2 separate regions of the Homo sapiens genome follow, and region 2 is linked to region 1. The links come from fine-mapping of genetic effects on gene expression. A gene starts in region 1. The other region holds a variant in brackets. All regions are shown on one strand. Distances are between the middles of the regions.

Region 1 (8,346 bases):
GCTGGGATTACAAGCATAAGCCACCATTCCCAGCCTCTTCCCAATTTGTTCTATGTCAAGACTATCCTAATCAAAATCTAAGCAAGCTATTTTGTGGATATCAACCAACATATTCTACTGTTTACATGAGGAGGTAAAAGACCCAGAATAGCCAACTCATTATTGGGGGATAACAAAGTCCAGAAGAGGAAATGGACATACCTATACCACTGAGCCTAACAGTTTCTTTGTAAGTACATATCCAAGAGAAATGAAAACATATGTCCACACAAAAACTGGTACATGAAGGTTCCTAGCAGCATTACTCCTAACAGCCAAAAGTTGGAAACAATCAAATGTCCATCAACTGATGAATCAGTAAACAAACGGGTGAATATATACAATGAAATATTATTCAGTCACAAAAAGGAATGAAGTTCTAATGCATTCTACAACAGAGACGAACCTTGAAAACATTATGCAAGTGAATTAAGCCAGACAAAAAAGGTCATATTTTGTATGATTCCATTTATACGAAATACCCAGAATAGATAAATCCAAAGGGACAGTGGCTGCCAGATAAATCCAAAGCAGATCAGTGGCTGCCAGGGGCTGGAAGCAGGAGGACATGAGGAGTGACTGCTTAATGTGAAAATGCCATCCCCAAATTGCTGAGCAAGATCCCTCAGCTGATGGGACCATCAGCAGTTTGGAGCTGGCATTTTCATTTGAAAGTTTAAATTCTCTCTTCTGAGTTATAATAAAAAAGACAGCCAGGATTTCTTGCACTTGTAGTTATGCATATAATTTATAATATGACAGCATTAATAAAAGAAGTTCTCATTCATTGCTGGGGTGAATGCAAATGGTACAGCCACTTTGGAAGACAGCTTGGCAGTTTCTTTAAAAACTAAATATACTCTTATCATATGATTCAGCAATAGCATTTCTTGGTATTTACCCAAATGAGTTGAAAACTTATGTCCACACAAAAACCTGCACATAGATGTTTATAGCAGCTTTATTCATAACTGCCAAAGCTTAGAAGCAACCAAGATGTCATTTGGTAGGTAAATGGATAAATAAACTGTGGTAGATCCAGACAATTGAATATTATTCAGCACTAAAAATAAAAAAGCGGCCGGGTGCAGCGGCTCATGCCTGTAATCCTAGCACTTTGGGAGGCCAAGGTGGGTGGATCACTTGAAGTCAGGAGTTCGAAACCAGCCTGGTCAACACAGTGAAACCCCATCTCTACTAAAAATACAAAAAAATTAGCTGGGCATGGTAGCAGGCACCTGTAATCCCAGCTATTTGGGAGGCTGAGGCAGGAAAATTGCTTGAACCGGGAGGCGGAGTTTGCAGTGAGCCAAGATCCTGCCACTGCACTCCAGCCTGGGCGACAGAGTAAGACACCATCTCAAAAAAACAATTAAGTAAGTAAATAAGCTATCAAGCCATGAAAAGGCATGGGAGAACCTTAAATGCATATTATTAAGTAAAAAAAAAGTCCATCCAAAATGGCTACATATGATTTCAAATACATGACACTCTGGAAAAGGCAAAACTAAGAAGACTAAGGAGATGAGTTGTTGCCAGGGGCAGTGGGGAGGGAGGGATAAATAAGCAGAACACATGGGATTTGTAGGGCAGTGAAACTATTCTGTATAATACTACAATGGTGGATGCATGTCATTGTACATTTGTCAAAACCATAGAATGGGCAATGTGGAGAATGAACCCTAATGCAAACAAACTGTGGACTTTGGATGATAACAATGTGTCAGTGTAGGCTCAATTGTAACAAATGGATCCCATGGTGCCAGATGTTGATAGTGGGAGAAGCTGTTCATATTTGGGATCAGGGGCTATATGGGAACTCTTTCAGCTCAATTTTGCTATGAACCTAAACGTACTCTAAAAAATAATGTTCATTAATATTTTTTTTTTATTTTATTTTTTGAGATGGAGTTTTGCTCTTGTCACCCAGGCTGGAGTGCGATGGTGCCATCTCAGCTCACTGCAACTCCTGCCTCCTGGGTTCAACCGATTCTCCTGCCTCAGCTTCCCGAGTAGCTGGGATTACAGGCACGCACCACCACGCCCAGCTAATTTTTTTGTATTTTAGTAGCAATGGGGTTTCACCATGTTGGCCAGGCTGATTTCAAACTCCTGACCTCACTCAGGTGATCCACCTGCCTCAGCCTCCCAAAGTGCTGGGATTACAGGCGTGAGCCACCACGCCTGGCCGTTACTTTTATTTTTAATGAATGAAATACACATTCTTACATTTCTATTTTAATTTCTAATATGTTAAACATCGATATAAATCCACATAAACAAAAGCTCTTTGAGAATCTCAAAAATTGTTCATGTATAAGGCAGTTCTGAACCCAAAAACTTTGACAACCACTGCATTAAAATTTTGTATGTGTTATGAACTGAATGTATCCCACAAAATTCTATGTTGAATCCCTAACCCCCAATGTGACAGTATTTGGTTATGGCCTTTGGGAGGTAATCAGGGTTTTAGGCATAGAGTGGGACCCTCATGATGAGATTCATGCCCTTATAAGATGAGACATCAGAGAATTTCCTCCTCCTGTCTTTCCCTGTACACAAAGAAAAGGTCCTGTGAGTACGCAGGGAGAAGGTAGCTGTTTACAAGCCAGGAAGAGAACACTCACCCTAATCTAACCAGGCTGACACCCTGGCCTTGACCACACCTCTGCTATGCTGCAGAGGTAATTATGGCAGGATAGGAAGAAGAGTAGGAAGAGTTCTCAAAAATTTACAGTATCACCAGGGAGGCTTACATGCAAGTAAAATGTTTGGATATGCCCGTATTTTTTTCCTTCTCTTATTACATACTATTCTGAATCTTGTCAGCCAGAGTCAGTACATGGCATGTCTTACTTCCTCCCTCTCCACAGTGGTCCATTTGCATTGTTTGGAGATAACCACAGTTTATTTAGCAGTTCTCTTACTAATGAACTTTTACAGTTTTTCAATCATTTTGCTGTTAAGTACTATATTAGTCAGCTCCCACTGCCATAACAAAATAGTGTAGACTGCATGGCTTAAACAACAGAAATTTATTTTCCTCATAGTTCTGGAGAACTACGATCTGGAGTCTCCCTCTGTTGCCTACTGTTGCCCACTGCACTCCAGCCTGGGCGACAGAAGGGACTCGGTCACACACAAAAATAATTTTTTTAATTTATAAAAAAGACAGGATCTCTGTCGCCCAGGCTGGAGTCCAGTGGGGGCGATCTTGGCTCACTGCAGCCTCCACCTCCTGGACTCACGTGGTCCTCCTCCCTCAGCCTCCCGGGTAGCTGGGATCACAGGTGCGCACCACCACCTCGGAACATTTTTTTAAATTTTTTTGTAGAGATGGGGTCTTGCTGTGTTGCCCAAGCTGGTCTCCAACTCCGAGGTCAAACAATCAGCTCGCCTCAGTCTCTCAAAGCCCTGGGATTACAGGCGTGAGCCCTGGTGCTGGGCCCTGAGTCGCTTCTCCATCCGGACGGGGCGCCTAATCCCCTGGAAAAGGCCCCGTTGCCAGGGTGACAGGACCAAAGGGACCCAGACAGGGAGGGCCCCGGGCTTTGCAGGGAGTCGGGCCGCAGTGTGACGAGCGCCCGGACTAGTGTCAGGGTCTGGGCTGGCTCACCGGGTCTTGACGCCAGGAGGCCGCAGAGCCCGGCCAGCAGCAACCAGAGGCGGAACATGGTGCGGCTTCGGGGCTGCCAGCGGGAAGCCGTTGGGAAGTCGGGAATTGCCAGGGACGCGGGGACGCGCGGACGCCGGGGGCCGCTCCCCGCACGTTCATGGGACAGCGTTCTCCGGAGGCCCCGGAGACGGGGTGCTCTCGGTGTTTAGCGTCCGGAACACGAAGGGCCCGCAGCGTGCGCCCCGAGGCTAAAACATCCAGCTCCCTTCCCGGCGCACCCCAGCCGCGTGGTTGCTGGAGCCACTGACCACCCAGCGCCCTCTGTCGAGATCGCGCTCGTAGTCCTCCACTAACTTTTCGCTTTGTGTTGCTGGACCTTAAGAACTGACACACTTATTCACAGTCAGCGTGTGCTCTCCTGCACCAGACACTTCCCAGTTGCTTTTTTTTCTTTTTGGGACGGGGGTGCTCACTATTCTGCCCAGGCTGGTCTCGAACTCCTGGGTTCAAGTGATCCTCCCTCCTCAACTTCCTGAGTAGCTGGGATTACAGGCATCTGCCACCGTTCGGGGCTTCCTAGGTCCTTTCAAAAGCGAATGTGTAATACTTTCTGAATTAAAATCTATATACACACCTAAATATATATTCATATTTGCCAAACCTGTTTCTAATATTTTTTCAAAACTATTTAGCCAGATGTGTGAACATTCCAAAGAAGGGAAAAGTGAGCCGCTTTTCAATATGAAATGCCAGCTCTTCATATTTTTGAAGAGCGCCAGCTGCATTTTTTTCCCCACTGACGCTGCCCAAATGGACTTCACAACCAGGCTTTTTCCTCCAATCTGGTTCTCCGCAGGCCATTGGCTAAAACTCATGTGATGTCATTCTATTGTTCAGAAACTTCTCAGTGCAATAAATACTTATTTCATGTAGTGAAAGATTTAGAGATTCTTGCCCACAATTACAGTAATTACATTCCAGTAGAAAATTCTAGCCTCAGCATAGTAATTTTTCTGAACTCAGACCGGAACCTGCCACTTAATTTCTCCTATCCCGTGTTTTAGCAGCTCTGACTTTGGGTTTTTCCTAAACACTGCTTTACTCCCTGGAACTGCAATGCCTCCTCCTTCCCAGCCTCACACCTGGTCTCCATCTGTATGCATTAGCTTTTCATTCTTTTCAAATCCCAAAGAATGGATTAATTTCTCATACTACATAATAGGCCAACACATAAACTAAAAGGCCTCATGGGAACAGAGAAAAATCTCACTTGGGGAACTAAGACATTTAAAGTGAAGATGTGATTTTTATGGATGCACGCAATTTCAACAGGGCAATCTACACCTGAAATTAATAGCATGAACAAAAACAAGGCAACAGGCCAGGTGAGGTGGCTCACGCCTGTAATCCCAGCACTTAGGGAGGCCGAGGTGGTTGGATCACCAGAGGTCAGGAGTTTGAAACCAGCCTGGTCAACATGGTGAAACCCCGTTTCTACTAAAAAATACAAAAATTAGCCGGGCATGGTTGTGGGCGCCTGTAATCCCAGCACTTGGGGAGGCTGAGGAAGGAGAATCGCTTGAGCCCAGGAAGTGGAGGTTGCAGTGAGCCGAGATTGTGCCATTGCCCTCCAGCCTGGGTGACGAGCAAAACTCCATCTGGGGCAGGTGGAGGGGTGGGGTGGGGAACAAGGCAACAAAAAAATACACTGAGCTTGTATCTCAATAGGAACAGCCAATGCTAAGCTAACACTGCTTTTAGGCAGCTGCTGAGCCACAGCTAGTTTCACCTTGCTTTGTAACAAACAGAAGAGCAATTACAGTAAATGCTTCAACTCATCAATTAGTGGTAAGTATTCTGAATGAATTTCTGGCTCTTGTATTATTTTGTTCTTTCTTACTCCTCAACCTTTCTGGTTTGTATCTTTAATAGGGTTGATTTTGTATTATTCTTGTGTGTATGCCTCTCTTCATAACAGAGGATGCACTTCTAAAAGTCGGGAAACATATCCTATCCAGAACTTAGATATCACAGTACCTAATACAGTGCCTGAAAAATGGTAGGTTTTAGTAAACATTTATGAAATTTAATAAAATCTGATTTGAGTTTAGAAAACCCAAATTGTGCTTAACTCTATGGTTACAGACACAGGAGAAAGCGAGAATGCAATACTCTGAACAAGGTCAGTTTGACATACAGAGTCAAACAGAGATGTCAAACTTGCATATAATTTACCCTTATTTATTCTTTTTGAAGAAAGAAAGGATGTCCTTTAATATTTTCAAATTTTGAAGTGGCATCCATGACCAAGTAAGTAAAAAACATAAAGCATATTAAAAAATATATAAAAGAAGTTCAGATCCAATAGTCTTTTTAAAAACTTAACTAGTCAAATATCCAAAGAACTATTTAATTCCAAGTGTTAAGTTACATAGTTAATACATTACCAACTGTAAAATTTCAGTGATATGCATCACAATTGCAAAAACTGAGGCTACATGAGTGAACAGCACAAACGTTTGAGTCTTATATGAATTCATTTAGAGATTTAAAATGAAACGATGGACCTTCATTTGAGATTGCTCACAATTTTTAATATGTATACTTGATTGTTAAAATAACATGCTGTCTTCAGAAAACTGAAATTTTTGCCTTCTTCAAAACTAATCTGTTCTTTATTAACAAAAAGCCATTGTGCACACTTTGGCAAAAGTCTGAAAATTAGTGAGATAATATCTGTAAAAATTTGACTAGAATTTTTATCTAAAATTATAACTTTTTAATTAATGAGATTATAAATAGTTGAGTAGGAAGCTACTAGGAGACACAAAAGAGAATTTCAAGTATTTTATTTATTGTAAATGTTGTATTTGTATATGTATATATACACAAACCAAAAACACTTTTAAAAAACTAATGAAATTCAGTTAATAAACCTATTATTAAACTTTATTATGAAAGGTTATGAAAAAATTTTTAGTGCTTAAAATTTTACGATCCATACCATATCTGCCATAGTAAAAATTCATTTTTAACACAGCTAAGATGATAACTCATAGATACCACAGTAACTTTTTTGTAGGTATTTAAGAAAACCATTTCTTCCTTCTTTCTCCAGCCTAATTTCTATGAAAATATTAGTGTCTAATATTTTACATGACCCAGCACACCTTAGTAAATGTAAACATTCTAAATGATTTAATAGCAAGCTTTGAAAGTTCAGATTTTAAAGTGCTCATGAAATTCTCAAGTGGTTTTGTAAAAGTTCAATTGATTGAAGATTTTATAATTGCTCCTGCTTTATTATAGCCATGAATCAACATATTTGATTAGATCTATTAAATACTTCGTACCTTAAAGCTTATAATTTATTTAAAATAGTGCTATTGTGAACGAATGTCATGCTTTCACATGATTCATAATAGAAATTCTAATATTAAATTAATTTCTCTAAGAGTTATTACCTATAGTTGAAAGGTCATAAAAATGGAAGCGAGTAACTGCGTGAATACACACACACTCTTTTAGTATATTTTGTACTTTCAAAATAATATGACATCTTAATTGTGGTTCTTGTGCATTCTTTTGAAGACAATATTTGCTTATTCATGTAGTGAGTGACAGACAAGATTCTAGAGTATGATGATTATTAATTCGTGCATGATGAAAAATATTAGATATTATTGGCAGCTGATTAGTCAGTTTTCACAGGTATTAGATTATCACATGTTCAATGAGGAACTACATTAATGATAACTAAGGTAGAAAATTCAGAATAACACTTAAACACTTAATGACAAAACTCTTACACCAATACAGTTAATTTGAGAATCACTGCAATAACATGTTCAAAAAATCCATGATTAGTGCATTAACCTCACCGATGACTGAATAAGACTTATTCAATGATGGAAACGGAAATGTTATTGTAAATTCCCTGGCTTTACTGCATTTCCTTGTATTTCACAACTCTCACACTCAGTTTCTGTTTTTCTGTGTTAGTGAAGTCTGTTTTGTGGTGTTTTGTTTTCATTCATAGTTGCAACAGAAAGGCTTTTCAAGAAAACATCAAGAAAAAAAAAAAGTATTAGCTCAGTTCCCTGAAGACATTTGCAAAAAGAAGGTTAAAAAAATCAAGTGAGGGAACTATATAAAGGAGGTGCAGGAGCAGGACGGGCAGGAATTAAGTTTCCCTGAGATGATACTTTCGGTTGTGGTGGAGGTGGCCTGCGAGGGGAAAAGAGATAGTTAATAGAGTGTTTAGACTGGGTGAAATAATGCCATATTCATTACAAGCTCAACATAACACCATCCTCAACATCTCTGACAACAGGAAAGGGTACTGTACATTCTGAGATCAGTATTAGGGTGATATTCAATGGCTAAAAGGCTCCAATTAGAGTCTAAAATGGAATAACTACTTTAAATAATATTACTCCATAATCAACAATGTTGTATGAAGGTTCTAGTTTACATGTTTTTTCAAAAAAAAAAAAAGCACATGAAATGGTAAAGATAAACTGTAAAAGACAAGTGAGTACACTAAGTGATCAAGCACTTGCCTGTGCTGTTAGAATTTGAGGGCAGCAAATTACTGCTGGTGTAAACCTAGCTGTTTATAGCTCCCTCAACATGAGATTCACTCTGAGAATTAAAAGTGTTATGACTTCTATACCTGTCCATCTCAAACC
Region 2 (8,346 bases), 170 kb before region 1:
ATTTCTGGCTTAAAAAAATATATTGTTTCATTATGTTTACCCAAGGAATTGGCTCTACCAACATCTCCCACTGGCTTCCCAACGGCAACAAAAATACTAAAAATATAAATGTAAAAGGAACAGAAATACAAGAAAATACAGTAAATGCTCTAACAGTAAAGGACAGCAACTATGTCTGCTTAGCTTACTAAGTTTAAGTGAAAGAATAATCACCAAATACCTTTCTGGGTATGCTAAACACAAAGTTAGAATAATGGGTTAACATTCCAAATTATACTCCCCAAATCCAGTGTATATTACCCTATAGATGATGCCCTTGTCTATCCCTCAATCTAGTTGAATTTATTACTTTTAAAAAGGATGATTATGATATGATTATGGCATATTTTATGAGGAGAGATAATGTAAGGGGACAATTAGAGTAGTTACACCACTAAGAATTATATGTGCATATGTGAACTTCAAGAGAAACCACTCATTCGTTAAGCAAGTATTTATTGAGCATTAACCCTGCAAGATGCTACCTATAAATAGGTAGGGAAAATAAACATGGACTTGACCCTCAAGTGATTTCAGAGCCTAAAAGGAGAGTAATGCTTCTAGGTGAGCAGAAGATTGGGAGAATTGCAGTGTTTGAGCACTCTATCACAACTCCCTTGGTGACAGTGACGGAGAGTGGAGACAACAAAGAAAATCAGCTTTTTTCTCAAACATAGCTTAGAGAAAGTAACTGATGACTGTAAAAGGGTGCTTATGTTAGGAGACATCCAAGAACAACAGAAAGGATAAAGGAGACAGAAATACTGTAGCTTTCCTAATGGATGGGGTGCCTTCATTGGGGAAAATACAAACCATATAATGTTTTGGTGTAGCCTAGAAAATTTAATCTGTGTGTATAAAGGATATTTTGGAATAGCAGTGGGTTGAATGTAACTCAAAGAGGTCACTTTAAGGAAAAATACTAGGCAATATAAGAAAATGAAAACTCTACAATGGAGAAACCATGACGAACATAGCAGTAAATATTTGATAACTTCAGAAGGATCACAAAGCCACAACTGTGGGGTGTAGGAAACCAAAAGCTTCTCTAAACGAGTTCAGAGAACCCTTGTTAACATAGGTGTGGGACATTGAGGATCTGTGGGAAATGTAGAATTTTAGTGTGTTTATAATACTGTCTCCTAAACTCTTCCTAAGTGGAAATAATCATTCGCTCAGTTGTTCACATTGAGTTTTTGGGGGTGTAAATGCAACCTGAAAAAGTACTATTTCCCCTTTGTGTATCCCAGAATAAAGGATGCAAAATGTTCAGCTTATGATTTAGTTTCACAAAGTAATCATAAATATTTGTCTCTTATTAAATTTCACTAGCTTATTTCTTATGTACCACAAGAGTAGGCAATCAACAAAAATTTAGTCAACTGAAGAAAAAAGATTAATGGAATTAATTAATGCTTGTAGAATGGGAAATATTAATAAGTTGGGTTTGGTGTAGACTTTATCGATTGTGGCTGCTCAAAAAATGTTGAGCAATTATTTGTGAATTATCAACTTTTTCATTCTGAATTTTCAACATACTTATTTATAAGTAACACTTTCTATCCTGCTTACCTGCTAGTATATGCTTCAGCACTATCTTCTGATTTGGATCTAAAAATAAATTAAAAACAATATATATTAAATATCTATTATTAAAAATAAATTGGCCAGGCGCGGTGGCTCATGCCTGTAATCCCAGCACTTTGGGAGGCTGAGGCGAGTGGATCACAAGGTCAGGAGATCGAGACCATCCTGGCTAATACGATGAAACCCCGTCTCTACTAAAAATACAAAAAATTAGCCAGGTGTGGTGGCGGGCGCCTGTAGTCCCAGCTACTCGGGAGACTGAGGCAGGAGAATGGAGTGAACCCAGGAGGCAGAGCTTGCAGTGAGCCAAGATCACGCCACTGCACTCCAGCCTGGGAGACAGAGCAAGACTCCATCTCAAAAAAATAAAAATAAACATAAATAAAAATAAAAATAAATTAAAAACAATATCTGAAAGTTAACACTAAGAGCTTGCCTACTTTGAGAATGAAAAACAGGCCATTTTATAGCACCAAAACTAATTATTTAAATATGTGGGGCATGCAAATAAATAGCATTCTTTTTTACTCAAACACCAAATGCAACATATAGTACAAAATGTAAATTCTCTAGTAGAGAATCAAGAGTATCAAGATAGCAGAGGTTTTTCAAATTACTTCGAAGTTAATGTAAATTTAACTGTAAATGTCTAAACCTGTTCTTCAGCCTCCAAGTTAGTTTTGTATTTGTTAATATATAAATTGCAGCAGTTTGTAAATTAAAACTTACATTTACTTCTGACCAGTTTGGCAGACTGGACAAATAGTAAAACTTATCCTTTCTATTAGATACATAGAGAAAAGCTGAAGAAAACAAAAAACGTATGCATAACTAAGATTGACAGTCACAAAGGGTTTTCCTTCTACCATTTAAAAAAAAATAAATTAGAAGCTCAGAGGGAAAACAAGAGCTAAAGCTGAATTACTTATACCCTAAAAGATGTGGTTTTCATAACCCTAGCTTGGAAGGAGTTGAGGGCATGGATCTTTACGTGTTAGAAAGCTGCAATGGAGCAGTTTCCCAAGCCTGGTAGTCTTTAATGGAAATATTAAAAGCTATGACCACTGCACTTCAGAACACAACTAGCAAATTTTCTCAGGCAAGTGAAAAGAAAAGGATCATCTAGAGATGCAGAAATCACAGGCCTGCACCACGCAGTGCAGACCTCAGCTGCTCAGTTCCACTACTCGCAAATCTGAAAGAGCAAGCATGGAAAACATTACAACATTCATGCCCCAGGAGAGGCAAACCTGAAATACTCTCATCCTCCCAATGCATGCCTCTACAACTCAGGGCATGCAGAAGTCCCATGAGAACAATCACTGCCCTTGAGGGTGGGCTTATCAACCTAAATTGCAAAACAAAAATTCACACATCAAGATCAACAGATAATATAAAAATCTTCAAAATTGAAATATTTAGGATCTCCACACAAATCAAGGCAGGACTGAGGCAAAAAAAAATAGCTATTAAGAAAACGGAGGATTTGGAAACTGATATAAGGAAGTGAAACAATGTCAGATAGAGAGGTAGAAAGATGTAATACATGAAGAACCCAGTTAAGAAACATGGATGCTAGTCCGGGCATGGTGGCTCACGCCTGCAATCACAGTACTTTGGGAGGCCGAGGCGAGTGGATCACAAGGTCAGGAGTTCAAGAAGAGCCTGGCCAAGATGGTGAAACCCCGTCTCTACTAAAACTACAAAAATTAGCCAGGCGTGGTGGCAGGTGCCTGTAAGCCCAGCTACTTGGTAGGCTGAGGCAGAGAATTGCCTGAACCCAGGAGATGGAAGTTGCAGTGAGCTGAGCTCGCGCCACTGCATTCCAGCCTGGGCAACAGAGACTCCGCTTAAAAAAAATAAATAAAAGACGAAAGAAACATGAAGGCTAAAATGAGAAGACCCTCCTAAATATAATCATTTCCAGTGGAAAAAAGAGAAAGAATGAGAAAGAGTCAATAATTGAAGACATAATGACTGAATTAATTTTTTAGATTTAATGACCTGAGTCCTGATATCTAAAGACTATATTGAATCTAGAGCTGGATAAATAAAAACAAATTCTATCAGAACATATAATCATAAAATAACAAAACATTTGAGACAAAAAGGAAAACTTAGAAGCCA[C/T]CTAGAAAAAGCACATTAATTGAGGGGGGAATAAATAATGATACTGACAACTAAGGTCTCATCAATGACAGTACATGGCACATTACAACAACAGAATATTACAAAACGCTTTCAGAAAAGTCCTTCTCAGCTAGGAGTAACCATTTAAGCTATCATTCAAAATTCAGTGTGGATAAAAAAAGCATGTTCAGGCATTTAACACAAATGTTGATAATACAGAATCACTAAACTGAAACTAAAAGGGTTGTAAAAAGGAAACTAAACCCATAATGAAAAATCAATGGATTCAACAATAAATAGTGAGAGCAAAGCAACTGATAAATACGTTTTAAGCTCTTAGCAGGTATTAATTTAATATAAAAATGATTATAATAATAGTAATAATAATAATAATAATGGAGGGTAGGGTTCTGTAGGTAAAAACCTGGAAGAAGCTAAAAGCCAAATGACAATAATATGGGAGAGTAATGTTAAGAGTTTGCTGATAAATTGTCAAAGATTCTTCTGTTGCTTAGGAAAAGACTGGAAATACTGAAAGAATTTAGACATTTAAAATAATTACACTAAAGTAGTACTAATGTGACCCATACTGGTGATGGGAACAGGTGGCAGAGAAATTCTAGGCAGAAAAGGGTGGGTCTCTGGCAAAAGCGCCACCCTCAAGCCGAAAAGCCGGAAACCACCATCCAAAGAGAGAATTTCTATCACTGTTTTCCTGCTCAACCTAAACCACCCATGGCCCTGCCCCTCCCCATTCTGTGCCTATAAAGACCCCAGACTCAGTTGGCAGAGACGAGAGGCAGCTGGACGTCAGGGACTATGGCTGGATGTCGGAGAGAAGGGGCTAGACTTCAGAGGGACAGCTTGATGGCATAACTTCAGAGAAGAGTCCAGCCCGAGGTGGCTGGACTTGAGGGGAAGATTTCCTGCCCATCCCCTTTTCAGCTCCCCTTCCCGCTGAAAGCCACTTTCATTATTCAATAAAATTCCTCACATTTATCATCTTTCAATTCATTCATGCAACCTCATTTTTCCTGGATGCCAGACAAGAGTTTGGGAGCCACAAGTGTGGATTCAAAAGGCTGTCACACTGTCCCTTCGCCCTCACTGGTGGAGATCAGCCGCCTCACTTGAAAAGGCAGAGGGCCTACTGAGCTGTTAATACTTAAGCTGTCCAAGCTAAAAGAGCACTGTAACACGCCCTCTGGGGTTTTCGGAGTCACAGGCACCCTGCCTGGATACCGCTGCAGGGCCTGCACAGAGTTCGCCCCTGCCGGCGCCCAAAAGTGCTGGCTGTGGCTCCTGCACCTGCTCACCTGCATGCTCCCTCCCGAGTGGTGGAGCGCAGTGGGTCCCAGTGAGTGGAGTTTGATCCCGCCCAGCCAGGGCTGAAATGGCCGGCTGGTTCCAGCGCTCCTGCACTCTAGCAGCTCCCACCTCGTTCACCCACGCGTTCCCTCCGATGAGGAGTCAGGAGGCTGAGTAAACGAGGCACCCCTGTCATGAGTCCCCTGAAGGGGTCAGGGAAATATCCTGCTTCACTGGAATTCATTCCATCTCTCTGCTTTCTTTGGCTTCAACTTCCCACCAGTTAAAGGTTACTCCAAAGATAAATGACATGAAAACTATGGTGGATGTTATATCACTAAAGCACAGCCACCATGTCAAATGATGTTACTAAAATTCAAATGAATAGTTATTCTAAAATGATTCCCTGGTGCACGGTAAGCCAGAAGGCTAGACCAGTGGTTTAACATTGCAAATTAAACGATGTCTATTGAAATGTACATTTTCCTATGGGTGATGCTATCACCCCTCACTGAATGGAGGTAAATAACCCTGGGAGAGATGAATTATGTTAACAGGGTTTCAGGGTGAGAGATGATATATTGAGCGAAGAAGAAATGGAGGAAGCGACAACATCATCATGGATATATGAATGTGTGTGCATGCATGCATGTGAACACATATATATATAGATTTGTCTATGTACCTTTGTGTTTCTGTTTTTGTTGGTTTGGTTGCCTCTGTGTGAAGATCAAAGGTAGTCATTCATTCATTCCTTCAACAAATATTTATTGATCACTTATAATATGAGCCGAGCACTCTGCTACATGCTAGCTATACAATGCTGAGCAAGATAGACATAGCCTTTATTATCTGAGATGACAGAATATAATAAGAGAAAAAGGTCACTGAGGCTCGCTGGGCCTGATCCCTATATGGTAACTCCCTTGCTCACAATAATAAGAACAGACATGATAATAAAAATCAAAATTTTAAAGATAAACTCATGACTCCAACGTGCCACTGTAAGGAAAAAAATAATGAGGCAGATTAAAAATGAGCAACGCAGGCATTCTTATTGAAGAGGTAAATTTCTTCTGGAACAAAAGAAATCATACAACCTTGTTGTGCAGCTTAGAGAGTTTGTCCTGTGGATTTGGATGTGTTTGGGAACAGCAGTGGGCTTGGAGCAACCTAGAAAGAATAACACTAGCCCCCTATAAATGTATATAAAAACTGTAACTCAGAGAGGGAGCAGTAAAAACTTCAAAGCATTTTATATCTGCAGAAGGACCTAAAACCCACAATTGCTGAGTGTGAGGAACTAGATACTTACTGAGTTATTATAAAAAGACATCCACCTTTCAGGAAATGGACAGGGACCTAGTAATACTGAGAACAATGAAAGATGTGGAATTTTTGTTCCTTTGTGATGCTTTTTTTTTTTTCAACAAATTCTTCCCAGGTGATCTATGCGAGCATTCACTCAGTTATTCATCAGCATACATATTAGTTTCTAGTTGTGCCATCTCCAAATAAAAAAGTAAACTTCCCCTTGGTGTACTCCAAGAAAAAGAATACAAAAAGATCCTTTTTATGAATTAGCTCCTTAAACATTTCACCAAAAATGTTTTCCTTTGTTTCCCAAAAATAAACTCCCAACACATATTAACTAAACTGCAGGAAAGAAGATATTGTCTTATTTAGACAAATACTCGCAAGTTACTAGATCAGCAAATAGGTTGTTTTAAGGTACAGTACTTTACTAATTGTGGCTACTCAGTTAATAGTTAGCAAGTAATTGTTAATTATCAATTTGTTCATCTCAATTTTTAACATATACTTATTATATAAAAAAAATGCCCCCTAATTCACTTACTTGCTAGTATCAGCTTGACTGCTGCTTTCTGATCTGGTTCTAAAAGAAAGCGAAAAAGTAATGCTTCCACGTTAATACTTAACACAAATGTGCCTCCATAATGAATGAATGTCGGATCATTTTACAACCTGTGTTAATTCTTCTCTACCAAGAATCACCACTGAAGAATAATTTCAAAAGACTACTAAATTAGCATATGCAAACAAGTTTTTATTTATTCATATACAATGTCCATAAAAAGTTTAAATTTCAAATATTCAACTAAGCAGAGGAACAAGAAAACTGATTTGTTTTTCTCCTTTCACTTTCTAGCACAGAATACATGCTTTATTTTAAATGCCTGATTCTGGCCTTCAGAGTCTATCCGTTGATAAATACATTGCTGTAGGTTGTGATTCAAAATCCACACTAATGTCAAGAAGACTGAACTGATGGGGAGGTGTGGTAATTTCCCCTCCTATACCACACACAGAGAAATAGTGCAAAACAACACATACTATTTACTAAAACTTTATGAAAGAAAAGGCCATTTCTAGTGATAGTAACAGAGAGAGAGAGAATTGAAAATGCGAAAGGTAAATACAAACTAAATCTGAATGACTTTGGGGGTACACAAGTCAGTTTCATAAGCCACATCAGCTTATCAAGAGTTGAGACTTCCTAGAAAGATGAAGCTGACCTCCTTCTCTAAACCTGGAAGCCCTGAAAGGCTGTACCACCCATGAAATGGGGATAGTAAAAGCTGTGGCCACTAGACACAGAGATGCATCAGGGAAATTGCTTCAGAAGTAGAGATGAAAAATGAACACCAGGAGGCACGGGAACCCGGAGCACTTAAATTGGCTTAGGAATTTGGATGGAAAAATCATCACACAGAGAAACAGGAGCCTTAATTCTTTACACGTATAGGATAAGGACACCACTCCATGCTTCCCATGAACTCCAGTGTAACAGTTAATGTAAAAATTTATCACACAGGAGGGTAAAACATGACCTCCACAAGGAGTCTTCTGCAAAGCACAGTAGGTTTGTTTACACCAGCATCACCACAAACAAGTGAGTAATGCATTGCTCTCTGATGTTGTGATGGCTACAACATCACTAGGCTGTAGGAATTTTCACCTTCATTATAATCTTATGGAACCACCATCATACATGTGGTTTCTCATTTACCAAAACATTGTTATGAAGCACATGGCTCTCTCTGTAACACCAGCTGGGTAACTTCTAGGCCCTATACATTCTTTTTCTTTACTAATTATACATGTCCTATCTCATTTTAGAATCAGCTATTTTATTCCTTGTTTCCTCAAAAGAGACCTCCAGTAAACATTTATTAAATAAAGAAATGACTAATTTATTAGAAACTAAATTCAACTGTATATTAGCAGTCTGGATTTTAGTGCATTGCTTTACCAATTGACATT

Evidence for each region.
Region 2: its variant is fine-mapped to the expression of ADAM32 in hypothalamus (GTEx, PIP 0.96).

Annotation. Positions count from the first base shown.
Region 1 is chr8:39,103,143-39,111,488 of GRCh38, reverse strand. It overlaps ADAM32 (ADAM metallopeptidase domain 32), which reads right to left and starts at 3,755. Exons shown (of 25, transcript NM_145004.7): 1 at 3,656-3,755. The coding sequence starts at 3,713. It overlaps ADAM9 (ADAM metallopeptidase domain 9), which reads right to left. Exons shown (of 22, transcript NM_003816.3): 22 at 6,228-7,882. The coding sequence ends at 7,789.
Region 2 is chr8:39,274,440-39,282,785 of GRCh38, reverse strand. ADAM32 (ADAM metallopeptidase domain 32) reads right to left here. Exons shown (of 25, transcript NM_145004.7): 22 at 6,920-6,958; 23 at 1,612-1,650. Among named protein-coding and RNA genes, the nearest start is that of ADAM32, 170 kb to the right of the region's middle. The variant C/T (reference allele first, on the strand shown) is at 3,754.